Linked DNA regions of Homo sapiens. The protein of the gene in region 3 purifies or fractionates together with the protein of the main gene of each other region. This does not show direct contact. Each region holds a gene or a part of one and is shown on either strand. Other genes may lie near its edges. The genes, in order: PXMP2, SFXN5, SLC18A1 and ZMPSTE24.

Region 1 (7,025 bases), on a different chromosome or scaffold from region 3:
TTTTTAGTAGAGATGGGGTTTCACCATGTTGGCCAGGCTTGTCTTGAACTCCTGACCTCGTGATCCGCCTGCCTTGGCCTCCCAAAGTGCTGGGATTACAAGCGTGAGCCACTGCGCCCAGCCGTATTTTATTTTATAGATTACAAAACATTCTGAGAAGGGGGTCCACAGGCTTCACTAAACTGCCAAAGAGATCTGTGGCACAAGAAGTTTGAGACCCCTACTGATAACACAGAAGAGTTCCGGGCCTGGAGGTTAACCTACCGGCATAATCCCAGTCAGAATCCAACGCATGGGAGGCGTGTTCACCTGCACTCAGCAGGTGTGTCTGTTCTGACTGTCCCACCTCCCCCGTTCACGAGCACCTTCAAATCCTCACCATCTCTAGGAGCACCAGCCAGGTTGTGCTGTGTGTCTGAGACGTGTCACCTTTTTTTTTTTTTTTTTGAGACGGAGTCTCACACTGTTGCCCAGGCTGGAGTGTAGTGCGTGATCTCAGCTCACTGCAACCTTCGCCTCTTGGGTTCAAGCAATTCTCTGCCTCAGCCTCCCAAATAGCTGGGATTGCAGGTGCCCGCCACCATGCCCGGCTAATTGTTTTGTGTTTTTAGTAGAGACGGGGTTTCACCATCTTGGCCAGGTTGGTATTGAACTCCTGACCTCGTGATCCACCCGCCTCGGTCTCTCAAAGTGCTAGGATTACAGGTGTGAGCCACTGCACCTGGCGTCACCTTCTGTCCTGAAAGTAAATTTGTTTTAACCATTCACTTCTCCATACAGAAGTTATAAAGGTTCATGTATTCAAACATGACATTATTCTCCTTCATGCCTTTCCTTACAGGAAGATAATAGAAATATTCTCCTCTGCTTTCCTCCGGTATTCTTATGGTTTTACTTGTGTACAGTAGGAGATAGACTTCTGTGTTGATTTTTCCACTTACATAGCAAATTTTCTCATTACCATTTATTGGGCAATCCCCAGTATTTTGAAATATTCTCATTTCCATCTGTACAGGCAATTATCTGCACTCTTTGTTCTTTTGCTGGATTATTTTCTTTTTTTTGAGATGGAGTCTCACTCTCGCCCAGGCTGGAGTGTGGTGGCACAATATCGGCTCACTGCAACCTCCGCCTCTCGGGTTCAAGTGATTTTCATGTCTCAGCCTCCAGAGTAGCTGGGACAACAGGCGCCCACCACCACGCCTGGCTAATTTTTGTATTTTTAGTAGCAATGGGGTTCCTCTGTGTTGGCCAGGCTGGTCTTGAACTCCTGGCCTCAAGTGATATGCCCACCTTGGCATTACAGGCATGAGCCACTGTACCCAGCTTCTCCCCCTTACTTTAAACAAGAAAATATTTAAGCATTTCTTTAAAAATTTTTTTTAGTTTGTATATATTTAGAGGGTACGAGTGCAGATTTCTTATGTGACTGTGCTGTGGTGAAGTCTGAGCTTTTACTTCCCATCACCCAAGTAGTCAGTGGTGATTTTCAACCCTCTTCTCCCCGCCACCTTTTCAAGTCTCTGGTGTCTGTTATTTCCCTCTGTTGGTCCATGTATACCCACTGTTTAGCCACCACTTATGAGTGAGAACATCGGCTGAGGCAGGAAGGTCACTTGAACCCAGGATGTCGAGACCAGCCTGGGCAACAGAGTGAGACCCCTTCTCTACAAAAAAATTAAAAATCAAAGGGTTGTGGTGGCACATGGCTGTAGTCCCAGCTACTCAGGAGGCTGAGACGGAGGCTTGATGTCAGGAGGTTGAGGCCAAGTGAGCCGACATCACGCCACTGCACTCCAGCCAGCATGGGCAACAGAGTGAGATGGCGAGACCCTGTCTTGGAAAAAAAAAGTGAGAACATGCAGTGTTTGACTTTCCATTGGTGAGTTGTTTCACTTGGGATAATGGCCCCCGGTTCAATCGACGTCACTGCAAAAGACATGCTTTTTTTTTTTTTTTTTTTTTTGACACAGAGTCTCGCTCTTTCATCCAGGCTGGAGTGTAGTGGCGCAATCTCATCTCACTGCAACCTCCGCCCCCCAGGTTCAACGATTTTCCTGCCTCAGCCTCCCAAAGTGCTGAGATTACAGGCGTGAGCCACCGTGCGCGGCCGAGTTCATTCTTTTTTTTATAGCAGAGTAGTGTTCCGTGGTGTATTTATGGCACTTTTTCTTTATCCAGTCCTCTGTTGGGGGACGTTTAGGTTGATTCCACGTGTTTGCTGTTGTGGATAGCGCTGTGATAAACACACGAGGGCAGGGATTGTTTGATATGATTCCTTTTCCTTTGGGTAGAGGCCCAGTAGTGGGATTGCTGGATCGAATGGTGGTTCTATTTTCAGGTCTTTGAGAAATTTCCATACTGTTTTCCAGAAGGGCTGTACTAATTTGCATTCCCACCAGCAGTGTGTAAGTGTTCACTTTTCTCCACATTCTTGCCAGCATCTATTGTTTTTTGACCTTTTTTTTTTTTTTTTTGAGGCAGAGTTTCACTGTGTCAGCCAGGCTGGAGTGCAGTGGCACGATCTCGGCTCACCGCAACCTCCGCCTCCCGGGTTCAAGTGATTCTCCTGCCTCAGCCTCCTGAGTAGCTGGGATTACAGGCACACGCCACCATGCCCAACTAATTTTTGTATTTTTTTTTTTTGGTAGAGACAGGGTTTTCCCATGTTGGTCAGGCTGGTCTCAAACTGCTGACCTCGTGATCCGCCCACCTCAGCCTCCCAAAGTGCTTAAATTACGGTCATGAGCCACCGCGCCTGGCCACTTGACTTTTTAATAATAGCCATTCTGACTCGCGTGAGGTGGTATCTCCTTGTGGTTTTAATTTGCATTTCTCTGATGATTAGTGATGTTGAACATTTTTTCATATGTTTCTTGGCCACTTGTTTTTCTTCTTTTGAAAAATGTTTGTATCCGTTGCCCACTTTTTTAATGAGGTTATTCATTTCTTTCTTGTTGAGTTGTGTAAGTTCCTCACAGATTCTGGATAACAGTCCTTTGTAGGATGCATAATATGCATATATTTTTTCCCAGGCTGTAGACTGTCTGTTGATTGTTTCTTTTGCTGTGCAGAAGCTTTTTTGTTTAATGAAGTCCTGTTTGTCTGTTTTTGGTTTTGCTGTATTTGCTTTTGAGCACTTAGTCACAAATTCTTTGTCTTGGCGGACGTCCAGAGGAATTGCTCCTAGGATCTTTATGGTGTCAGGTCTTGGGTTCAGGTCTTGAATCCACCAGCTGACATTTAGAATGAACTTACTGGAGTCCTTTTTTTTTTTTTTTCATAACTCCTAACAAGTTTTGATTGGAAAGACATCGACTTTGGAGGTTATTTGGGAGGAATTGACAGCGTAGCTCTGAGTAGCAGTTCTGGTGCCCAGGGCCAGCCTTGGGAGTCACCTCCTCCAGTTGTCCGCAAGGAGTTTTGGGCCAGGACAGACATCACTGCCAGCATGAGCAGGCTGCTGTCTGGCATCTCACTGATCATTTTCCATCTTGCTGGTTGGCTCCTTAGAGCCGCAGTGCTGAGTACACATGTGTGCTGTCTGCGTACACACAGAACAAAATCCAATAGCAGTTTAAAAACCATCACGATAGGGTCTGGGTGCCCGGAATTCAGTTCTGATGGGCAGTGAGACTGTTCACCACCCGCCTTCCCTCCTTTGCAGGGGAAAGACGCCTCAGCCTTCGCCGCCAAGATGAGGGGGGGCTTCTGGCCGGCGCTGAGGATGAACTGGCGGGTGTGGACGCCACTACAGTTCATCAACATCAACTACGTCCCTCTGAAGGTGAGGGCCACGGGGCTCAGCCTCTGCTAACATTACTTTGTCAGCCTTTTCCTTCCTTCCTTCCTTCCTCTTTCCTCCCCCCCTCCCTCCCCTCTTCTTTTCTCTTCTCTTCTTTCTTTGGTAGTTTTCCGCTAGACTTAGTTTCATCCGTGTCTAGACTCCTCAACTACCCTTGGATTTTGCCCATGACCCTGAATCATTGCTAGTTCGGGATTCAGGAAGCAACAGAGAAGGGTGTCCCGAGTGGTCGTCTTTGCCTCTTCTGTTCGTTCAGCAAATTCTCATTAAAAGCCCCCATGCCAGGGATGCCTATGAGTTTTCTAGCCTTTGAAACATTCCCAGTCCCAGGAATGTACATGCAGGCAACTTGAATCTATGCTCCTGGGTTGCAGTCCTCAAACTTGGCCCAAATAAACTCTAGTTATACTTAGAAAAAGAAGGCCGTCACAGTAGCTCACACCTGTAATCCCATCACTATGGAAGGCTGAGGTGGGCAAATCACTTGAAGCCAGGAGTTCGAGACCAGCCTGGCCAACATAGCGAAACCCCATCTCTACTAAAAATACAAAAATTAGCCAGGCATGGTGGCAGGTGCCTGTAGTCCCAGCTACTCAGGTGGCTGAGGCACAAGAATCACTTGAATCCGGGAGACGGAGGTTGGAGTGAGCTGAGATTGTGCCACTGCACTCTAGCCTGGGCAACAGAGTAAGACCCTGTCTCAAAAAATAAATAAAATGTTAAAAAGAAACAAAGCATTCGTGGTCCCTGGGCTCATGAATTACAGCTGAGCCTGAAGGCAGGCACTGTGCGGCCATGGGTCCTGCCGCTGGCCTGGAAGAGCTGCCTCACCTGCAGCCATGGCAGCCACACCTGGGCAAGGGGTGGGCCCATCCAGGTGCAGAGTGAAGGCCTTCTGGGTAAGCTGAGCCTTTCCGCTATCCTGTGCATGAAGGAGCTGCTGTGGGGGCTGAGTCAAAGGTGTCAGATTGGGGCTGGGCTGGTGGTGTGGAGGCTGGAGCTCCAGGCTCTGCCACTGGGATCAACTGTCTTTATGCACAGCCAGGGTCCCCAGGACCACTCCCACACTGGGAGGATGGGGTGCAGCACCCCCTGCAGCATGGCAGGATACCCCCAGATGCTACAGGAGGAGGCCTGGCAGAGCCTGCAGGGGCCACGTGCTTCCCTCCCCCAGAAGGTATGCCGCCCATCAGGGTTTTTTACTGGTACTCTGGGCGGGCATCTCTGCCTGCTGCCCCAAAGCTCCAGACCCCTAGAAAGACAGCAGCTGTGTGGAGCCTGCATTGTTGGTGCAAACAGTCCAGGCACAGGGCAGGTGGCCCTTCTGGGAAAGGTGGGTGCCGTCCCAGCCCAGGCTGCTGCTAGGGAGGACCTGAACAGGCCTGCAGTGGCTGGACCTCAGCTGCAGAGGGCCTTCCTGCATTAGCACCGGCTCTGAGCCCTGCCCAGGAGGGAGGAAAGGACCAGGGTGACCCCCGAGGGAGAGGAGGGAGGCGGCCCAGTGTGTGCACACTGCACACACCACAAACACACCAAGAAGCAGCAGGAAACCAGGGGTGCACACAGACAGGACAAAGAGGCAGTTCACCCTTAGCCAAAGTTGCCAGGAGTTAAAGCAAAATAAAAAAATTTCCTTTGGCTTTAACAGTGGCCCTTCCCAGAGCAATTTCAGCTCTATGGGGCTGAAGCCAGATTGCCTTGAAGAGTGGGTGGGAATTATTTTAAAAATCACAAGTCTAGAACATGCTCTCAAAGTCTGTGGGGGCCAGGCATGGTGGCTCATGCCTGTAATCCCAGAACTTTGAGAGGCTGAGGCAGAAGGATCACTCAAAGCCAGGAGTTTGAGACCAGTCTGGGCAACATAGTGAGACCCCATCTCTATTTTATAAAAATGAATTTTAAAAAGTTTGAGAGAAGGTGAGAAGTGATGGAAGAAGGCTGGGTGGCAGAGGGGGTTCTGACACTCAGAGATGCGGCCATGGTGGGTGCAGACGTGAAGCTGCTTGTGGGATGGGCAAACACGCATGTCCAGAAAGAGCAGCTCTGCGGGGTCCCCTAAGGAGTCAGGGTGGATGTGAGCCCCCAGCACACTCACAGTGGTGCTTGGACAGAGGCCCTGCCCTCTGTGATGAGAGAGGAGAGAGAAAGTGACAGCTGAGCGGACAGGAGAGTGGGACATCCTGCCTCAAGCCCCCACGTGCCTCTCTGGAGGGCCAGGGGCTGGGACTGAGGGCAGAGGAAGTCAGGCGGGCATTTTAAGGGGATACAGGAGGGGCAAGTTTGGCCATGTGGAGGATGGGAGAGCATGCTGACTGCAGAGACAAAGACCTCTGGGCAGAGGGGGCTGGGGCTTGTCCAGCTGTGGTCAGCATCTGGGGAAGTGAGAAGGCAGGAAGGATAAAGGATTTTCCAGGGAGTGTGACTGAAGAACAGTAGGCTAAGGAAGCTACAGCCATGGGCCACTGGTTCTCGGGAATTTAGAGAAGGAAGCAGAGACAACTGAGAAGACAGACTGGCCGGGAACACGGAGGATCTGGGATGGAAGAGGGGAGAGCTGGGAAGCCGCGCCTCTGAGTAGCGTGGGGGCAGAGTCGCCATCCTAGGTGGGTGCAGGTGTATGCGGAAGCAGCATTCATTCAGCAAGCGTTTCCTGAGCAGTGACTGTGCGCCATGCTGCTAGACTCGGAGACGCGGCGATTAACCAGACACATGGGCTGCTACTTTCATAGCACCACGTGCCAGGGAGAGACTCAGCACTGGGCCAGAGGATTCTGGGGAAGGGTGAAGCTGCTGAGTCACCAAAGCAGGGCAGTGGGATGGTGATGGGTTAGAGGAGGGAAGGTCTGGGGCCCCTCCGCTGTTCGTCAGCTGTGTCCCCTGAGGAGGGTGCAGCCACCTGCATGATGGCTGGTCCTGGAGTGAGAGAGGCTGAACCAGGAGCTAAGGTGTGCGGTGAAGGGGGCAAAAGGAGAGTGACTTGGCTTTGGGATTCCTGGGCCGCTGTAGCCTGTGAACACTGTAACTAGGGGACCGTTTTTCTTCTCCACTCCTCTCTGCTAGGGGCCTAGCACAGCGTTTGGTACGAACAAAGGCTCAGTAAATGCAGTAATGGATGGGTGGTTGGACCAGCTGACCAACAAACGGGTAAACAAATGAACTGGGTGACTGAGGCTGGATAACTGGCCACGGCCTCCCGCTGACCGTGGCCTGTTGGACTGTT
Region 2 (7,025 bases), on a different chromosome or scaffold from region 3:
TGCCTCAGTGCCCCCAGGCACAACCTCACCTCCCCACCTGCTCTCCATTACAGGGAGCACCAGGTTGTGCTCTGTCTACTGGAGCCTCTTCTCGGCTTGGAAAGCCTGTCCTGACTCCTCCACCCACAGAAACCTGTCTCCCAAATCCTTGCCTGGCCTGGCCCTCAGACAAGCATCCACCTGCAATGCTGAGCGGGGTGGCCCCAGAGCAGCAGAGCCAAGAAGGAGCAGGGGAGGGAGTACTCACAGCAATGGAGACGGCGCTGATGACAGCTCCCAGGTATCCCTGGATGAACTTGGATGCAGGTGAAGGCTGGAAAACAGAGGCAGAATTTCAGGCCTGCTGGGTGCCCAAAGCTCCCATACTTCCCCTTGTAAGCTGTCCCAGCCAGCAAGAAGCATCCTGCCCACCAGCCTGGAAAGTGGGTAGAAGGAAGAGGCCCCTCAGGACTCAAAGGGATCAGGCCACCCTCAGCTCAGTTCCCAATGCAGAAATATAAATCACCAGTATCCAGGGAGATACTGAAGGGCCCACTTCACTCCTGCCCTGTTCTAGAAAGGTCACTGGCAGACAGTGCTGGGTGGAGGTGGAGAACAGCAAGGCTAACATGGACCATTGAAGGCTGGGGCAAGCAGTCTTCAGTTTAGAGGCTAAATGTTTCAAGGGGGCCATTTGGCATCTGGAGCGCTTTCTAGGTGGAAATGCCAGTGTCAAGGCTCTCACAGGCCTTGCCAGCCCATGGAACAGCTGGGCTCCCATGTCAACAGATGATAGCTGCCCAATATCTCTAGAGAATAATATACCCCAAGTTCCAACACAGACAATTAAGAAAAAGCTAAGGAACTTGCCCTGTGCTACAACTGCAGGTCTAGAAGTGTCTGGTTTAAGATAAAGGGAGTCATCCAAGCAGAGATGGCCATATGTGAAGCCTATGAGAGAGACTTGGGGTGGAGGTTTAGATGTCAGGGGGCAGCCACAGCATATCAGGCCTCTCAATTCCTATGGCCCAGGCCAGCTCCTATTCCCCTCCTCTCCCCCAAGGTGAGCAAATGTTAGGACTCTCCTCTACCCCAAACTGACAGGCCCCCAAAGGGGACTTAGATGCATCCTGCCTTCTTTGCCTTTGAATTGAAGTTGGGGAGAGGTGGCCTTGCCAGCAAAGCAGGGGCCCAGCAGCCCTTCCTGGACAACAGAAGGGTGACTGGGCCTCCACCACAAGCTCTCCAAGGAGTGCAGGGGCTCTGGGGGGGAGTTACCAGCCCTGGACCCTCCCCACTCAGGAGCAGCCCTTCAGCTTGTGGCCAGCAGTCGGGACCTGGGAGCGCTAAGGCAGCTTCCAGAAATTTTGGAGGAAGCTTTATGGGAATTTTGCCCCCAAGTAGCTGATACCATCATGATCCAAAACCCAAATGTAAGAGCTACCCAAGAAGAATCTGAAAGCCAGCCGAACTCATCCCTTGCACTGCTCCCATTTAATGGGCCTTCTTCACTTCATGTAAACAGCCCCTCCCCAGAGGGCTCCTGGCCCAGAAACTGCAGCTGACCTCAGCTGAGTCATGTCTGAGTCGGCCACCCACCTGAAGGGCTGGCATTTTAAATAAGATATCTAGAGGAGGGCCATGCTTAACCAAGAGGCAGCCACTGATGGTGGCATGTCACGCTGTAGGGAGGATGACTGGGCCTCCCTAGCCTGAACCCCACCACTGGGGAGAGGGCAGTGATGCTCACCTTGGTCGCATTGCGGTTTGCATAGTTGACACAGGCATTGTGGCTCTGGTTCAGCCACTGAAAGGCAATGATGAGAGAAGTCAGGGAAGGAGTGGTCACCTCCCTGGAAGCCAGGCCTGGACCCCAGGAGGCCACACATCCCCAGAAAGGCACAGCATGCGGTCTCCAGCTCACATGGTGCCGCCCATGCTGCCGGTCAGCATGACTGACCGTCCTGGTTTGCCCAGGGCTGTGCTGGTGTTAGCACTGGAAGCCCTGCCTCTCGGGAAGTCTCTCGGTTCCTGAATGGGGTCCTGCGCACCCCAGTAGTCCACCTGATCCTGAGACAGTCACCTCTCTTGGAATGATGGCATTCACTGCCCCTGCAGACCCCACTGCCTTTGTCACACCATCTTTATTATATTACCTGCTGGACAAAAGTTGGCCTAGAATGACTGACAGCCCTACAATTCTTTCAAAAATCTCCCAGTCCAGTATCCTGCACCTCCAGTTCCCAGACACAGAGGCCGGCAGGAGTTTAGTTCAGGGAAGACTGACATTTTCTCCTAGAAGACAGACAGGTTTTCCTTCCTGCCCGTCTTTCTCTGCACACACAAACACAGAGATATCCTCAGTTTTCATGGCATCACAACCCAGACTGTCTCCAAGAGCAGGGACCAGGGTCTGTGATGCACTTCACAACCTCAGGTTAGGGGTGGATTTAGCTTCCTCAGCAGATGTGGGGGAGGCTGATGTCAAAATGAGGCTATGGGCCTCAGGGTCACTGGCCTTGGGATGAGCAGCCAAGGGGCAGAGTGGGGGCCACCCCACTGACAAGCCAGCATGTTCCAGGCAGGGGCACGCAGCCCTCATGACCTCTGTCCAAAGGTTAGAGTGACACATGGTGGATTGAGACATGCTGGGCTGCTGGAGACCTGCTCAGCAGGGCCAAAGTCCTGGTTTTCCTTCAGTGGCTTCTGGGCTAGGGGTGGTGTTGGGGTGGACTGACCCTACACGGGGTCTGGACGGGGCAGGAGACACCACAGCAGGGAGTTCTTAACCAGCACCTGTGTGGGCCCTTCCTTCAGGAGCCCTGTTTGCTGCGAGACTGTTACCTGCCAGAAGACAGTGGATGCCAGTGTCTGGTTGGGCAAGAGAAGACCGACTACCTATGAGCAAGAGAGAAGAAATGCTGAAAAAGGCAGAAGAAACATCCTATGCTTTTGCAAAGAAAAAATACGCTACCACAAATGAGTGAGCTGGATCTGTACAAACTGATGTGGTATGCCGTGTACATACAAACTGAGGTTCATTGAGGGAGAGGCTGTGTGATGGGAAAAAACCAAGTTGCAGAATTATATTACAGCATAATCTTATTTATTTAAAGAAAAATCATTTTATATATAACGATATACACAAACACATGCATACACACATTATCTTCAAGCATGAAAAAACCTGTAGTGTGGATGTCTCTGGAGGTTGGGTTGCAGATTACTTTTGCACAATCTTAAATATTTCTGTATTCTTTTAAACAACAGACATGTATTATTTCCACAATTAGGGGGGCAATAAAAACAAGCAAACAAAAGGAATACCTTCGTTTCCACTCAGGTTACCTGACTGCTCACCCTAGCCTTCCCGTAGGATTTTTGCGAGGATTAAACAAAAATCATTTCAAAGGCCTTAAGTGCTTTGTAAATACAAGTTGGGGGAATTTGTATCTGTTATCTGTGAATTTCCATGAAGCAAAAACCTATACCAGGTTTAAGCAACTGAATGAAACATAGATTTCTAATATTTGTTGAATGAGTGAAGAAAGGAATGAATGAAGAAATGAACAAATATACACATATACACATATGGCTAGGTATGGGAACATGTAGATCCATTATTCCCAAAGCCCAAATATCACCTAAGACCTAGACTTGCTGACCGTGTTTTTGGTTTAAGTCAAGATGAATGGTCTGATTTTGACACTGGCCAAGCCTTGGACTTCAGGGATCCATGTGCATCTCTCCAGTTTACCTTCTGAGTGTTTGTGTGCAAAGTAACATCTACCAAGTCCCACTGCATATGGGAAAAATGTGCACAACCATCCACATATTGACTTATTTATTATTCCTGTAGATAAAATGGCTCTTTGGCAAGAATTTCTGTAAGGAACAAGTATAAACACTCAATAATATGCAGTAAATCAAATTCTAGACATCCCCAGCAGCATTAGTAAATCATGTTTTAAACATTAAAATGTTTTAAAACAGCTAACACACACACACACAATCTATATTTATTGGCTCATATCAGTTTGAATAAAATTATATAATATAAAGCTATTCCATAGCTCCAACGAGGAATTATGAGATTTTTCCCCCAGAATGAGATCCCAACTTGATTTTTTTTTTCTTTGCAGTGGCAGCTTAGGGAATTAGAGTGAGAATCAGGGGAACCTGGGTCTTAGATTCAGCTCCATCCCCATGTGATCTCTGGCAGAAAATGATCCCCTTTGGGGCACTAACTTTCTTAAACTATGAAAGTGAAGGGGCTGACCTCAGTTTAAAATTCTACTTCCAAATTCTGGGTAGTAGGTGTCAAGTCAACAGAGACGGTCTTTTCTGTAATGGGATCCCATCTGCTAAGGAGTATCCCAGGAAACTGAGGACCTCCTCGTAGTTGGGGCCCCCAGTTAGAAGCCAGACCAGAGGGAGGGAGCTGAGCCTAGCGGGGGTGGGGATGGGACAGGGGGGTGGGTGAAGAGTACATGTGCTCCTATGTGTACACGTATGCATGCCTGACTGCCTTCTACCACCGGAGGAAGTTAATAAGGCTGTTCACTGTTTGGAGCCCAGCACGTCATCCCCTGATCTGGAGTCTACTGAACACGGTGTCTTATGGACTACACTGTCTTCTCCTCTGAATCCCCACTTACCCCTCGAACTGTACTTGGACCACCAGGAACATCGTAAGATACAGCCCAATAGCACTCACTGCATTTACCAGACAACTGCTGTCCAGGACACTGCCCGTGACACCACAGGGTTCCCTTTATAATCCTCTTGGGGGAAATATTTTCCAGTCTCAGGGTCAGGAACTGTGCCTCTGAATAACTGGTGTGCATGTGCCTTGCAGACACTGAGCCATTCAACTGAGTCTCTTTGCACCGTCAGAAGCTCAGGCCAGCTCTCCACAGCCCCATCTGCCAAGTGTACAGACCCACACTGCATGGATTCTGTGCCCAAACCTCACTTCTGGCTTCATTTTATCTTCCCTTCCCTAACCTTCCCTTTGTCTCATTTTCATCTTCACTTGATTTATCTTTAGTGGCAAGCATTTTTAAAAGTGACATCAAGTCTTTTCCAGAACAAACCAAACTAGTATTTGGGCTATGTACCACACACATACACACTGCCCATGGCTCTGTGACCAGCAAGCTTTTTACTTTGTTAGACAATCCCCACTTTGCATCCCAACCTCCTACCCTAACATGGGTCTGGAGTCCATGCTGGCACCTCTGACTGCTATGAGTCTCCTCATTCTTTCTTAAAGAGATGGATTGACTGATTTGATTTTGCCACGCATTTCACTTATCATAATCCTCATACTAACCCTGGGGATCAAAGCAGAGATTACTTTTGATATTTTGCAAACGGGACAACTGAGGCTTAGAGAAATTCAGTAATCTGTCCATAGCTTCATAGCAAGCTAGAGAATCAGGTCTCCTGGTTCCTGGCTTGGGGGCCCGGACTCTGATTTTAGGGTACTCCTTCTCCAGCTCATCCCCTTGAGCGCAGAGAGAGGGGAGATCCAATCAGCACTCTGCATCCATTTATGAGGAGCTGCTTCTACGTACCAAGTTCCTTGCTGCTCCCAATGGAGAAAGCCAGAGGAGAGGAATGAGTGCGCGCGCACACACACACACACACACACACACACACACACACACTCCTTAACCACAATAAAAACAAAAACCAGACAAGAAAATGGAGGATGACATCCTTTATAACACCGAGGCTTGAAAATGACAAGATGGTTTAATGAGGTATTTGGTTATGTGTAAAGTTGATAAATTTTAACATCCAAACAGGAGTTTAGGAAGGGAGGGGTGAGTGTGTCCCGGCTATCTAACGAAGGCGGAGGTAGGAGTGAGCCGAGGGGGCGCCGACACAGGAGCAGGGACAGCCGAGACAGCAGAGAGACTGGTCTGACTGCAGAGGAGGTCTGGGAGACCAGAGGGAGTGTGGAGAGGGTGAGGTTAGAAGACAGGAACACCGAGCTGCATCGGCCAAATGGAGCCTTAGGGGGCCATGTGAGGCTGAGGCAGGGAAGCAGGGATCCTGCCCTCCAGGTCCTTACAGTCAGGCGGGGACCAAAAGCACGAGGATGCCAGCCCAATTCCCTATTAGGCAAAACGCAGCACCATCTGCACAATCCCAGGAGCAAGAGCAGATATTTTATAACTTCCTTTTTTCTTTTTAAGTCTAAATTAAAAATAAATGTTCCCTTCAGCTCTCAGATGTATATCTCTGGTGCAACCTGCCCACATTCCCTCCCGCTGCCCTTTCCAGAACATGGCAGGGGAAAGGAAGAAAGAGATGGATAGAGAGAGGGAGCCAGTCCACCCAGCTTCAATGCCAGTGGATTGCACCTCTTCCAAGAGGGAAACGATTCAGGCGTGGCCACGCAGACGGGTGGAGAGCGCCCAGAATGTGGCTGGTACCAAGGAAAGTGGAAGGAGAGGGAAACAGGAGCCAACAGCTATGATTTCTAGCCCAGCCTCCACCCTATCGCGCTGCAGGACCTTGGCCAAATCACACATCCTATCTCTGCTCCCATTTATAGTTCATAACATGGCTGAAGTCCCCTCTGCCGCTCCAGCCCCCTGGCAGCTGTGCTCTCTGCACATCCGTCTGTACCTTTGCTGCTCCCCTTCATTTTGGGTGTCCTACCATGGACCTAGTGATTAACGCTCAGGCTCTGGTTGTCAAATGCTGGTGCCAGCATTTACCAGCTATGTGACCACAGGCAAGTCACTGGAGCTCTTTGTGCCTCTGTTTCTTCACCTGTTAAGTGAAGGACAATCCCAGTACCTCTCAGGATGGTTATGAGAGGAAGTAAGGTGTGGAGGAAATTCGCCTCAGCATGCAGCCTGCAGCAAGCGCTCCCTGGATGCCGGTTGCCAGTGCCATTCTTCTCCTCCCATGTAGTTCTTTCCTGGCCTTTGCTGGTTTCTTTCTCTGAGCTCCATAGTCAGCATTACACCACTGAACATCGTCTCATCTCCATCTCGGGAACACAAGTCTTATCCCTCAGAGAACAG
Region 3 (7,025 bases):
TCTGTAACTCTCTGCGCAGGTCTTGGAATGCTGGCCAGTGTCTACACTGATGACCATGAGAGAGGACGAGCCATGGGAACTGCTCTGGGGGGCCTGGCCTTGGGGTTGCTGGGTAAGTGGCACCAGCTGGAGCTCTGGGTTCGGGAGGGTGGGACTCTAGGAAGCAGGTGTTCCCGAGGTGTAGAAGACGAGTATTTTCCTTCCCTTGTTGGCCTCATCCTATTTCAACTCCTTTAGAAATATCACTGAGAAAAGGTTAAATTTCCTTCTCCTTAAGAAGCTGGGAAACACATAAACGTCGGAGAAAGGTCCGGAAGCCCAGCCTGTTGGAGGAAGTGAGCCTCCCCGATTTAGAGGCCACTGCTTCGCCTCGGTTCCCATGCACACAGCACCAGAGCATGGCTGCTGCCAGATGCTCTGCTAAATCTGTTACACGCATAATCTCTTTTATTCCTCACCACCAGGAATGAAAGGAGGAATGATTTTCCCCATTATAGAGATGAAAATAAGAATGGCGAAAACACCATCCAACATCACACAGCTAGGAAACGCCACAGCCAGGATACAGACTCCGATTTTCTGGGCTTGGAAACCCAAGCCCCAAACGATAAAACTACCCTTTCTTTGAGGCTCCTCCCTCATACAACTTAATTGACAAGCTACATGCTTTCACTTATTACATGCCAAGCACAGTGCCAGTACTGTAGGGTGGGAAGCCCCAGGCATAGTTCCTGCCCTCTAGGAGCTTACAAGCTCATCGAAAACAAAACACCTGAAATTTCTTCCCCGGCCTATGCCCCACCCTCTAGCCCCATGGGAAGCAGAGGAAACAGAATCCCTGTTATTTGCTAGTATCCATCAACCCAAATGCCCAAGCTAAACCCTGTGCATCTTGAAATCCTTTATCATGTCCCAAATGAATAAGCTCCCAAATGAACAAGCTTGTTAGATCCTCAACAGCCACTCCTGGCTCCTTGTCACTTCTGGGTTAGAATCTGGCAGCATCCTCCCTCTTGTGTACTCCCTCCTTCCACCACGATGCTGCCTGAACAATCTTCCTGAGCCCAGAGCAGGTGATGTTTCTCACCTGATGTTTCTCCATAGGCCGCAAGGCCAAGTACATGACTCATCTGCATATACAAGGTTCCTGCATATGCAAGGCTCTACTTTTCTCCTCGCAAATATTCATACTCTGCTAACACCCGCTTTCTTCTTTTTCTTCTCCAACTACACACTCTTTTCTGACACCTCTGTGTTCTTCACACAAGCTTCTTCCCCTCCAGATACTCTACACTTGGCAAAGCCCTCGTGGCTGCCTGAAATTCCTGAGACATTGACTGTGCTTTCATTGCATGCAACATTTTACTGTCAAACTTTCACCATGCTTTAATTATCTGTGTCCCTCCCTACACACACACACACATACATACACACACGCGCGCGCACACACACACACACACACACACTTCCTCCACTAGAAAGTGGGCTTGATGGGGACAGGGATCATGTCTCCATCTCTGAATTCCCAGAGCCTCAGGTGGAGCTTAGCCCCTAGCAGGCCTTCTGCAAATGCTCACGGGGTAAATATGGATAATTCTCACTGCAAAGGACTCACCCTCACCTCTGGAATCTGTGTCTCCTATGCCTCTCCAGTGGGAGCTCCCTTTGGAAGTGTAATGTACGAGTTTGTTGGGAAGTCTGCACCCTTCCTCATCCTGGCCTTCCTGGCACTACTGGATGGAGGTAAGTCACCATCAGAGCCTCCAGCAGGTGACAGCCCAGGTCAGGTTGGGAATGCATTATGTTGTAGTGTCAGTCTTCACTAAGAATGGGCGGTTTGGACATGTTTTGATGGATCAAGGACTGCCCCGTTGTAGAAAAGAAAGAAGAAACTCAGGGAGTTAAATTTATGCATAATAGGGTGGTAGCACTACAGCTGTTATTGGAGCCCCCAGCTAATCAGTAGACACGCTGAACTGTCTCACCTTCTTTGTTTCTTAGCACTCCAGCTTTGCATCCTACAGCCTTCCAAAGTCTCTCCTGAGGTAAGCAGACACAAAGCTCCATTTCTAACAGTTATACAGGATGGCTGAATGCAGGAACCCAGGCATGCCTGCCAAACCATAAGAAGAAAAGTGAAGAGGAATAGGGTCAGCGAAAGTGAGAACTGTGTTTGGATTCCAGGATAGGGTTACGTTTCAGGTAGTGTGGGGGATAGTGACGTATTTGGCTTGATGTTGGACAAAGATGGTGGAAGAACCTTGTGCATAATCAAAGAAGCCATAGAGAATCTATCTATCTATCTATCTATATATTCGACACATATATGGGGTATGTATATATATATTCATGTATATCTGGAGATCTCCATATATATATATATATGTGCACACACACATGTAATTATAGCTAGGAGATAATGACATTGGGGACTGAGTATTTGGAGCTGTAACATCATCTCAGAGATGAAGGCTGTGGGGGCCACCTAGACAACATCTTCTGCAATAAAAGACATCCTGTGTGAATATCCCTAACTGTCATTCTGTCACAGTTAATAAATATCAGAGTTGGTACTTGTTTGACTCTAAGCCAAAAACAGCTCTGGAAAATCCATATCCCACCACGAAGGAAAAAAAGTAAGAAAGTGCATCAAGTGTAAAAATGTTTGATCTAAAGGCCTTGACTTTGCATTCCACAGCTTGTCAAGGTATTCCGGAAGTCATGACACTAACACCTCATCATTCTTCAGGGCTTTTCACGCACCAGGAGCTCAGCTTAGTGCGCCATCTATGCTGCATCTTACACATTCCATGAAATAAGTACAATTTTTAGCCTCACTCTACAGATAATGAAATCGAGGGTGAACAGAGAAGCATCTGAAAGAATTTGAAACTATGACATAATCAATACTTTTAGAGTGCCAATTCCCCCAGAGCAACTAGGAGCCTCCCGCAGTCTCCTGAGATGCTCTGCTCTTTACAGACTGGCTTTAGGAGTAGGATGTCTGGGTCCTGGAGAGGGAAGTCATAACCACCACCCATCCAGGACTCCTCAGGGCAAGGAGCACCAAATACCCTCTGCACAGGCTCCCAGGCCTGGCATATGCTTGGGCCCAGCACCCCTCCAGCCCTGGCCCAGGCGTAGGGACACTCATCCAGGTGGTTCAGCCACTGTTTATTATTAACTGTGCAGCAGTGGTGAATTACTCAGCAAGTAAATCCAGCTTGAGATTCCAGGAAAGTGAGGCACCCATAAATATCTACTTTTTTGAGACGGAGTCTTGCTCTGTCACCCAGGCTGGAGTACAGTGGGGCGATCTCGGCTCACTGCAACCTCTGCCTCCTAGGTTCAAATGATTCTCCTGTGTCAGCCTCCCAAGTAGCTGGGATTACAAGCACGCACCACCATGCCCAGCTAATTTTTATGTTTTTAGTAGAGACAGGATTTCACCATGTTGGCCAGGCTGGTCTCGAACTCCTGAGCTCAAGTGATCCATCCGCCTCAGCCTCCCAAAGTGCTGGGATTGTAGGCATGAGCCACCGCACCCAGCCCATTCTCTCTCTTTCTAACAAATATACATTATTATTATTATTACTAATGTTTTGAGCCAGTTGACAGTAGATTGATTGTATCGTTCCCTTACCCCTTGATACTTTAGAGCATTTTCCCTAAGAACAGGATTTTTTTTTATGTAATGTCAATGGAGCTATCAAATTCAGGAAATTTAACATGGATATAATACTTTAGTCTAATTTGCCGTGCCTACTCTGATTGTGTCAATTATTCCGATAATGTCTTCCATGGAAGTCTTTTTTTCTCTAATGCAAAGCCCAGTCCATGACTGTGTAAGACATTTATGCATCACACCTCTCTAGCCTCTTTTAATCTGGAAAAGTTCTCAGCCTTTATCTTTCATGACATTGACATTTGTGACAATTATCTATAGGGTATTCCTAAATTTGGTTTGTCTGATGTTTCTTCATGATACCGTAGCCTTCTGAGTTTCATGTCTGGAGGTATTTAATGCCCGTCGCCTCTCAGTGGTGATGTCCATTTTGATCACTGGGTCAAGGTGTTGTCTGGGTCTCTTGTGTAGTAATTACTTCTTCACCTTGTAACTAATATATAACATGTGGGAGATGTTGTAAAGTCATATAAATCTCCTACTCCTCCTTAAATTTCCTTTCTGCCTAGATTTGTTATCCATTGATGATTCTTGACTGACCCAATCTTTACTATAATGTTTACAAAATACTGGTTTTTCTAGTTCACCAATTCATCCAAATCATCAGTTGGCACTTTGCTGTAAGGAATAGCCATTCCTCCAAGGCAGGCGGATCACTTGAGACCAGGAGTTTGAGACCAGCCTGGCCAACATGGCAAAACCCTGTCTCTGCTAAAAGTACAAAAAAATTAGCTGGGCATGGTGGTGCACACCGTAATCCCAGCTACTCAGGAGGCTGAGGCAATAGAATCCCTTGAACCTAGGAGGCGGAGGTTGCAGTAAGCCACTGCACTCCAGCCTGGGTGACAAAGTAAGACTCTGTCTCAAAAAAAATACTCTAAAAAACAAAAAAGCAATAGCCATTCCTTTCTTACTCTCTTTATATGTATATATTTATAAATATTTATACCAAATAGGTATATAATAATTTTATGTACATGTGATTATGTTCACAAAAAACTTAAAAAACATTTATTTATCTGATATTATCAGTGTAGAATCATGGAGTCCTATTTTTGTAGTTCATCACTCTATTTACTTGTTTAATTTTTTTTTGGAGACAGGGCCTCTTTCTGTGACTGAGGCTGGAGTGTAGAGGTGTGATCATGGCTCACTGTAGCCTCCAACTCTTGGGTTCAAGTGACCCTCTTGCCTCAGCTTCTTGAGTAGCTGAGACTACACAGGCATGCCACCACACCCAGCTTAACTTTTTATAGAGACCGGGTCTGCCTGTGTTGCCCAGGCTGGCCTTGAACTCCTGGCCTCCCGTCCTTAATTATTTTGATGCTCAAATTGTCCTAGATTTGACAAGTCAAAGCCCATTAACTTGTTGCTGTGTCATTTTAACATACCTTCATTGTTTTTTGAGTAATGTTTTACTTTTCGATACAAAAATATGTCCTACGTTCATCTTGTACTTTCCCTGCCTCAGCCCTGAATTCATTTCCCCAAGGAGCCCAGGTTCTTGTTAGTAGGGAATGGTGTTTAGAAACCAAACTATGGGGCCGGGCACGGTGGTTCACGCCTGTAATCCCAGCAGTTTGGGAGGCCGAGGCAGGCGGATCATGAGGTCAGGAGATTGAGACCATCCTGGCTAACACAGTGAAATCCCGTCTCTACTAAAAATACAAAAAAATGAGCCAGGCGTGGCGGTGGGTGCCTGTAGTCCCAGCTACTCAGGAGGCTGAGGCAGGAGAATGGCATGAACCCAGGAGGAGGAGCTTGCAGTGAGCCAAGATCATGCCACTGCACTCCAGTCTGGGCTACAGAGCAAGACTCTGTCTCAAAAAAACAAAAAAAACAAAAAAAACAAAAAACTATGGGGACTCAATGTGCTCTTTGCCATTGGGGTCACCTTGTTTCCCTGCCATCTTGATGACAGAGCTAATACACACACACAAGTTTGTACTGAGACCTCCACTTCCAGCCCAACTCCACGGGATTTTTCCCTGCTTGCCCCATTCCATACATGTATTCTTCTTTCAAAGTAAGAAATTTGTCTCCCCCTATTATACAAATAGGTGAAACACCTATTTTACAAATAGATTAAAAAATTTACTTACTTGTATAATTCTATAATACTTACCCATGCCATTATAAAAAACAAAGCTACCAAGAAATATTCAAGACTTTTCAGTTCTTTTTCCCTTAGACTTAATGAATATAGCCAAATACTGTATCTAGAAATTACCGTACTTCCATTAGTTCTTTTTTCCACCTTTAGTGTGATTATGTAATGCATGATACATTTGAAATTCATTTGCATCCATTTGTGGGGTTTTTTTTTTTTGGCATTTAGTTTTAGTTTTTTTTCTCCATTCTGGCTAATTATCTTAGTCTGTTCAAGATGCCAGAACAAAATACTACAGATTGGGTAGCTTAAACAACACATATTTATTTTCTCACGACTCTGGAGGCTGAACGTCCATGGTCAAGGTACTGTTGAGGGTTGGTTTCTGGTGAGGCCTCTCTTCCTGGCTTGCAGACAGCCACCTTCTCAGTGCGTCCTCACATGGCCTTTACTCAGTGTGCATGCACAGAGGAAGAGAGCCCTGATGTCCCTTCCTCTTTTTATAAGGAAAACAGTTTTTCAGATTAGAGCCCCCACTCTTATGACCTCATTTAACCTTAATTACCTCCCTGAAGATACTGTCTCCAAACACAGTCATATTAGGTTAGGACTTCAACATACTAATTTGACTAAGGTGGGGGGACTCCATTCAGCCCATAACACTAATATAATTTATTTTTTTAATATATAGGACATTACCACCTAAAAGTCAAAATTATTCCAAAAGGTGTACTCAGAAAGTGTCAATCCCTCCAGTCTTTCTAACCCTCCCCCTCTCCCACCCCTACCACTCATAGGTAACCAATTTTAATGCCTTCTGGTTTGTCTTTCCTGTGTCTTAGTGTTTTTTCCTCAAAATAAATCGCTTATGTGTTTTCTTATTTTTCCCTTTTCTATTATATGAAAGGCAGCACACTATGTATTCTTTTTTTTGCGTTCTCCTTTTTTTCTCAATAATATGTCCTGAAAATTACTCTACTAGTTCACAGAATCTTTCCTTATTATTTTCCACCTGGTGGTGTATATATATATATATATATATATATATATATATATATATATAGACACACACACACCCACACACAATTTTGTATGTGTACACAATAGTGTGTGCGCCATATTTTATTCCATCTCCTATGTTTAGGTAGTTTTCAGTATTTTATAGTTATAAATAGTGCTGTAATTTGCATGACTGCATGTTTATAATGTTGTCATTAATCTTTAGAGTCA
Region 4 (7,411 bases), on a different chromosome or scaffold from region 3:
AATGGTTGCTTAGAAGACATGACATCTCAGCTGGATCCTAATGGAAGAGGATCTTTTTCCTACCTGGCTTCAGGGTAATAGTTCCCATATTCTATAGTTTTCAACTGACTAAGCAGTTATGTTTCTGTCTTTTTTGCTCCACAGCCGTTACTATCAATAACAAAGGTTAAGAAAGCATTCTGGGACTTGTAAGTGTGGTACCCTCTTTTGTGTTACAAAAATATGAAAATGAAAACAACCAGACAGACTGTCTCTCCAAGAAGTAAATTACTCACAGTGCCTTCAGTCTCTGAATAGAGTCCTGACCAGAAGCTGAAAGTGCTTTTATCCAGTTGATAGAGTCGAGATTTCTCAAATGTTTCAGAATCCATGATCTGTCCTAACTCCGGTGGTACATGAGTTGTTGTTTTATATATCCTTCTCTGAAATATTTTAAAGAAAACACTTTAGTGAAATAGTTGTTTATTACAATAGTCATTTATGATCAAACATCGAATGGTTTATAGCTTGCCACTTATATCTGTTGAATTTGCTTTATACCTACACAAATATTGCACTTGATCAAGTACATGAAACGACTGATGCAGGAAAATAAAAGCAGAACAAGAGAACCTGAGGTGACCTGACTGGTAAAACTATAATCAGGGTTGTCATCACACTTCAGTTTGTATATGTAAACCAAAGCTGTTAACATCACAACTTTGTTACATGTACTACTCATTCTGGGTATTACATACCTCCTATAATACGGAAAACAAATTCATGCAAAGGAGAAGCACACATGCTAACTGTGAGTATGAACAGATACTGAGGCTGCTCATTAAATTTGGTCCTAAATGCCAGAAACTTGAGGATCACCAGATGGAAACATATCAGGTCTGTGAGAAAAGACCAATTTTCAGCCGGGCACGGTGGGTCACGCCTGTAATCCCAGCAGTTTGGAAGACAGGGGCAGAAGGATTCCTTGAGCCCAGGAGTTCAAGACTGGCCTGAGCAATGTGGTGAAATCCCGTCTCTACAAAAAATACAAAAATTAGCAGAGTGTGGTGGTATGCACCTGTGGTCCCAGCTATTTGGGGGGCTGAGGTGGGAGGATCACTTGAGCCTGGGAGGCAGAGGTTGCAGTAAGCCCATATTGTGCCACAGCACTACACCCTGGGTGACAGAGAATCTATCTCCTTAAAAAAAAAAAAAAAAAAAAAAAAGGAGAAAGATCAACTATCTCATTATACTAAATTATAAAAGGTAAGGGTAATTTCAGTCCAGGAAATGTAATACAGAGAATGGATACCAAACAAAATAATGGGCCACTACAACATGCTTTCCCTATATATTGTTGTGTGCCAATAAAAGCTGAGGGGAGATCGAGCACGGTGGCTCATGCCTGTAATCCCAGCCCTTTGGGAGGTGGAGGCGGCAAGATGACTTGAGTCCAGGAACTCCAGACCACCCCGGGCAACATCTCTACAAAAAAATCAAACAATTAGCCAGGCACAGTGATCCGCACCTGTGGTCCTAGCAACTCAGAAGGCTGAGGTGGAGGTGGAGGGGTCGTTTGAGCCCACGAGTTCGAGGCTGCCTTGAGCTATGATGATGCTACTGTGCTCCAGTCTGGGTGGCAGAGTGAGCCCCTGTCTCTAAATACAATAAATATTCTATCCTGGCCAAGATGGTGAAACCCCGTCTCTACTAAAAATACTAAAATTAGCTGGGCGTGGTGGCACGTGCCTGTAATCCTAGCTACTCGGGATGCTGAGGCAGGAGAATCATTTGAACATCCCTCCCTCTGCGCGCTGCTGGCAGTGTCACAGACACACTCTTCCCCTTGCAGACTCTCCCTCGTCCCTCCTAGTTTCTTGCAGTGAGCCGAGATAACGCCACTGTACTCCAGCCTGGTGACAGAGCTAGACTCTAAAATTAAATAAATAAATAAAGATTAAAAATAAATAAATAAAAGTTCAGATCTCTAAACCATGGTTATCTCAGGTAAATTGTTAACTTTCACTTTTTATTTTACCATTTTAATATTTAAACTAAAATAATGTTGATTTTATGAAAAACGAGAAATATATTTCATTTAATTTCATTTATTTATTTATTTTGAGATTGAGTTTCACTCTTGTCGCCCAGGCTGGAGTGCAGTGGCACAATCTCAGCTCACTGCAACCTCCGCCTACTGGGTTCAAATGATTCTCCTGCCTCAGCCTCCCAAGTAGCTGGGACTACAGGTGCGCGCCACCACACCCGGCTAATTTTTCTATTTTTAGTAGAGACGGGTTTTCGCCACGTTGGTCAGGCTGGTCTCGAACTCCTGACCCCAGGTGATCCGCCCGCCTCGGCCTCCCAAAGTGCTGGGATTACAGGCATGAGACACCACGCCGGGCCCGATAAGTTTTTTGTTTGTTTGTTTGTTTTTTCAAGCAGAAACAATATATGCACTTTAAGGAGAAACAAGAGTGCAAGTTCTTGGAAGGACTGCAAAATCCTATGGTTAGGCATGATTACATAAATGTCATGAGGAAGTTGGGTGTCTAAATCCTTTTAAAGGCTTATTCCAAAGATAAAGGAGGCCAAGTCTGGGCCCAAGGATCCCAAGGAAGCTGCAGGGAGGGCACAAGAGCCCAAGCCTTCCTCCAGGCCCTAAAGGGATTGGGTCCCATGATAACGTTACAGAAAACTTCCTTGACGCACCAAGACCCTCCTCAAAGCCACAGTCCGCCATCGGGCCAAGTTACGAGACTCAGCAGGGACCACAAAGACGAGACTGGCGCGGGGACCGAAGCAATCAAGAGTCTCAGGGTCGAAGCCAAGGCTACTCCAGGGCTGGCCGGGTATGGGGGTCAGGTTGGACCCTGTCTAGGCTCACCTGCCGCTGTGCTAGGAAGGTCTCCCAAAGATACACTGTCCAGGAAAAGAGCAGCACGGCCCCGAAGATACGCTTCTCGGCCGGCATCTCCCACAAAGCGTCCAGCGATGCCCACATCCCCATGGCCACCCGGTTCCGCCGGCTCCTTCAGCGTGCACCGGTGCCACACCGACACTCGTCCCTTCAGAGCGTCCCCGCGGTGTCACAGCAATATCCGTTCTTTCCGAGGGCCCCTACGCCGATACCCGCCCCCATCCCTCCCTCTGCGCGCTGCTGGCAGTGTCACAGACACACTCTTCCCCTTGCAGACTCTCCCTAGTCCCTCCTAGTTTCTACAGGAAAAGCCCCAGCCCCACCTTCCTCACTTCCGGCCCAAAGAGGGCGGGGACCCAAACGCCGAGTTCCGGGCCCGGCTGAGCTGTGTTGCATCAACATTCTTCCCCCACGTCTTGACGCTGGGTTCCGGCCTAGGGTTCTGGCTTTCCTCCTGGGCTAGTGAACGCGGCGAAGTCCTCCTCTTTCTAATCTCCAGAGCCGCAGTTCCATCCTCTGGGTCAGCGGCTTACCCTGACTGGGCTGCGGTATCTGCCTTCCTTCCCCCAACAAGGCGACAGGTAGTCGGGGCTGGGGCCGGAACTGACTGAGTGGGCCGCAACTGACTGAGTGGGCCGCGGCTCCCGCCTGAGGAGGCTAGGAAGGACTGAACAGCAGCCGACTTCCCAGGCTCTAAAAATCGTGCCTCTGAGTTAGAGCTACCTCAAAAGCAAGACCAAGCATGAGAAATGGAGTCTTTTGGCCAGTATTGGGGTGTTCGGAATTCAAGCGTATGAGAGAGTGGACGGTAGCGTTGAGAATTTTCATTTGAAGATCTCGTCTTAACCACCCCAAGTGTAGTCAGAGGCGGCGTTTTCCCTGCGAGAGTGCCCTGGAACAAAGCAAGGATAGCGTGGGTTAGACATACCTGAAATGAAAGCGTCTTACTTTATCTAGGTACATATTTGCGTCAGTAAGGCGCAACGCCATTTCTCTCTTGGAATTCAGAAGTGAAATATGGTGACTGGGACGCCTGTACATTGCTTTGACTTAAAAATTGAAGTCCATTATTCTGACCGAAAGTTAATCTGATGATTAATTGGTTAAACATACTATCGTTGCTAATTAGCATAATTATTATTTACAATAAAGTGAGCTAAATAGCTACAACTAAAATATATTTAAATTACTGTGATATTGTGATGCTAAAGATGTGTTGAAATTAATATCTTGAATTTCTCAACCCTGCCTAAATGCCTCTGAGAGTAATTAGTATAATTAAAAGTCACTAGAGAAAGTGAATGACTCTAATAACAGGATAACAAATTCTTTTCAAGTCAGATGGTTTCCAGTTCTTTGCTTTCAACAAAATTAATGGTGGCCCATGAATTGTCAGCTGATGAAGGAACACTATTTGGTTTTTGGCATGCAACTCGGAAAGAAACCAAACGATTGATTGACATGCTTACAACAAAACTACTAGCATTCTCACCTATTTATGTAAAACCATTTCTCAGCACTTGTATCTGTGAAAACAACAGAATTGAAAATGAACCCTGTTAATCTACCAGTAGGAACTATTCATCCAGATAAATGAATTAATTGGTGGGTCAGCCCCATCTATCTCACTAAGAGATGTGTTCCCAATAGAATTTCACCTTTTATAACTGTGTGTTATCAATATTTGCAATCGTGTCATTTTGATCCATTATATACTAAAGATGATTGTGATGATTACTCACTTCAGAAGAATTCCAGCGTAGAGCCATAAAGTTACACGAAATTTTTTAAGGTTTACTACATATGTCATATTTTTATTGCGAAGAAGTGATCAAGAAAAGGTTGTTCAAACATCAAAGTACTATATTTGAATAACATTTTTTGTTAGAGTACAATCTAAATATGTTAGAGATAATAAAAGAACAATGTTGAAGAGCTCATTAGTGTATGTTTTAATGCATAATGGTGGTTATTCAGTTGTTATGTAGATTCTCTTGGATACATTATAAAGAGTGATTTAACAGTTTTATCTTAAAATGTCAGTATTTACAATTTGCAAGAATTTACATCCATTGCAACTATTTGAATTTATGATGGAACCAGTTAGATACCAACTTAAATATATAAGGGGTAAACACTTTTTCAAAATTTTCTCTCCCTCAGGCCATCATTGCTATGCCCTCTTCACTCTTGACTTCAGCTGTCTGTGAGTCCAAAGCCTCACAGGAGCTTCTACCACCCAAGCTTTGTGGCTAAGGGCACAGGTTTAGAGTCAAGCTGCTTGATTGCCAGCCACGGCCGCACCATGTATTAGCACGTTCTTTAATCTGTGCATCAGATCCTCATCAGTAAAATGAGAATAACATAGTATGTACTTACTTTCTCATACTGTTAGGATCAAATGAGAAAATTCATGTAAAGCTCCTAGCAATGTAGATGGCCCTGAGTGCCCAATAAAGGTTAGCTACTGCTTGGGAGAGGGGCATCATAGCATTGATCTGTCACCATGTGTCTGAAGAGATAGGAGAGTAGGAGGCCGAGGTGTCAAAAAGCCAAGACTGACTGGAATTCATTCATTCAATAAATACTGAATGTCTGCGAAATGCCAGACGCATTTCCAGGTGCCAGGGATATAGCAGTGAACCAAAGCCCCTCTCCTGGAGCTTACATTCTTAGCTGGGGTGGATGCAGTGTTTGATAAATAATAAGCAAATATTTAATAGTAAAAGTGGAAGTGGTGATAAGTGCTATGAAGAAAAAGCAGCAAAAAGGCAATACAGCATGTTGGTGTGAGGGATGCTGCTTTACATAAGTTGGTCAAGGAAGCCTTCTCAGATTAACTGGCATTTGAGTCCCCCAAAAAAAGTAAGAGAACAAGCTGTGTGGATATCTGAGGAAATTGCCAGTCAGAGTGAAGAGCAAGTGCAAAGGCCCTGAGATTGGCCAATGCTTATCATATCTGAGGAATGGCAAGAGGCTGTGGAAAGAGTAAGGAAGAGGGGGAGTGCAGATCCATGCCATCATGCAGTCTTTTAGTTAAAAGACTTTTACTTAGAATGAAAGAATAAGCCATTGCAGGATTTTGAGCAGAGCATTGCAGAGTTTTGAGCAGACAATCCTTCTCATTACAACGTGGAGAATAAATTTAATGGGGAATGGAAGGAGGGAGTGCAGTTAGGAGGCCATTTCAAGAATCCAGGTGATTTAGCAGTTGCCAAGGATATCAGAAAAAAAGAAAAAAGAATCCAGGTGAGAGATGGTAGTGCAGACTAATGTGGTGGCAGTGGAGAACTAGTGAATTATGGAAAGTGAATAATCACTTGTTTCTCTTTTCAGAAAGACAGTACTAATAGAAGGGCTGGCCTGTGTGGAGTCTAAAAATGGGAACCTCAAAACAGGCTGTTGGCAGGATTTTGCTAAAGGAGAAAGACTGGCAGGGTGTGCTGGCTCACACCTGTAATCTCAGTTCTTTGGGAGGCCAAGGTGGGATAATTGCTTGAGTGCAGGAGTTCGAGACCAGCCTAGGCAACACAGTGAGACTTCATCTCTATAAAAATAAATAAAATGACTGAATTTGAAAGATAAAGATTATTATCCCTAGAGTGATAGACATTGCTGTAGGGTAGTCCATCTACCCTGTCTAACCTAAATCATAGAGTTGCTCTCAAGCTTTTTCCCTATCTTGCCTTGATTCTCTGCTTACCAAGCATTCAAGGTCCCTTAATTGAAACTCTGGCCATAAGTGCTCTGGCCTCAAGAAAAGAATGATCCCCCTTGGCTGGGCGCAGTGGCTTACGCCCGTAATCCTAGCATTTTGGGAGGCCGAGGTGGGTGGATCACTTGAGGCCAGGAGTTTGAAACCAGCCTGGCCAACATGGCGAAACCCCATCTCTACTAAAAATACAAAAAAAAAAACAAAAGACAAAAAACCAGGCATGGTGGTGGACGCGTATAATCTGGAGGCTGAGGCAGGAGAATCGCTTGAACCCGGAAGGCGGAGGTTGCAGTGAGCGGAGATCACACCACTGCACTCCAGCCTGGGTACCCTTACAAGAGCAGCTGTTATTTCTTTTGCATCTAGCTCATTCTACTTTCTAGCTCATACGTTCTGTCTCTCATATAGGCTACTAATTCTGTGTTACTCCCTGTTAAAAAAGAACAAAAACAAAAACCCTGTAATGGTCCATTTATGATAGTATAAAGCCCAACCTATATATGGTATATATGGTATGACCTTCGAGGTCCTTCATTACCTGACATCAGTCTACTCTTCAAAACTCTTCTTTTTTGGCCGGGCGCGGTGGCTCACGGCTGTAATTCCAGCACTTTGGGAGGCCGAGGCGGGTGGATCATGAGGTCAGGAGATCGAGACCATCCTGGCTAACACGGTGAAACCCTGTCTCTACTAAAAATACAAAAAATTAGCCAGGCGTGGTGGCGGGTGCCTGTAGTCCCAGCTACTTGGGAGGCTGAGGCAGGAGAATGGCATGAACCCGGGAGGCTGAAGTTGCA

The links.
Region 1: the proteins of SLC18A1 (region 3) and PXMP2 purify together in Homo sapiens (affinity purification with mass spectrometry; 3 studies listed by BioGRID and IntAct, with this or other methods). This does not show direct contact.
Region 2: the proteins of SLC18A1 (region 3) and SFXN5 purify together in Homo sapiens (affinity purification with mass spectrometry; 4 studies listed by BioGRID and IntAct, with this or other methods). This does not show direct contact.
Region 4: the proteins of SLC18A1 (region 3) and ZMPSTE24 purify together in Homo sapiens (affinity purification with mass spectrometry; 2 studies listed by BioGRID and IntAct, with this or other methods). This does not show direct contact.

Annotation. Positions count from the first base shown.
Region 1 is NC_000012.12:132,697,583-132,704,607, forward strand, and holds part of PXMP2 (peroxisomal membrane protein 2), read left to right. Parts: intron 1-3,667; coding exon 3,668-3,787; intron 3,788-7,025. UniProt on the Homo sapiens protein: Seems to be involved in pore-forming activity and may contribute to the unspecific permeability of the peroxisomal membrane.
Region 2 is NC_000002.12:72,998,702-73,005,726, forward strand, and holds part of SFXN5 (sideroflexin-5), read right to left. Parts: exon of another isoform or gene 5,690-7,025; intron 2,878-5,689; coding exon 2,824-2,877; intron 1,787-2,823; coding exon 1,730-1,786; intron 314-1,729; coding exon 248-313; intron 1-247. UniProt on the Homo sapiens protein: Mitochondrial amino-acid transporter. Transports citrate. Does not act as a serine transporter: not able to mediate transport of serine into mitochondria.
Region 3 is NC_000008.11:20,166,123-20,173,147, reverse strand, and holds part of SLC18A1 (chromaffin granule amine transporter), read left to right. Parts: intron 1-19; coding exon 20-112; intron 113-1,653; coding exon 1,654-1,743; intron 1,744-2,001; coding exon 2,002-2,045; intron 2,046-7,025.
Region 4 is NC_000001.11:40,253,850-40,261,260, reverse strand, and holds the start of ZMPSTE24 (CAAX prenyl protease 1 homolog), read right to left. Parts: upstream 3,026-7,411; 5' UTR 2,990-3,025; coding exon 2,867-2,989; intron 423-2,866; coding exon 276-422; intron 1-275. UniProt on the Homo sapiens protein: Transmembrane metalloprotease whose catalytic activity is critical for processing lamin A/LMNA on the inner nuclear membrane and clearing clogged translocons on the endoplasmic reticulum.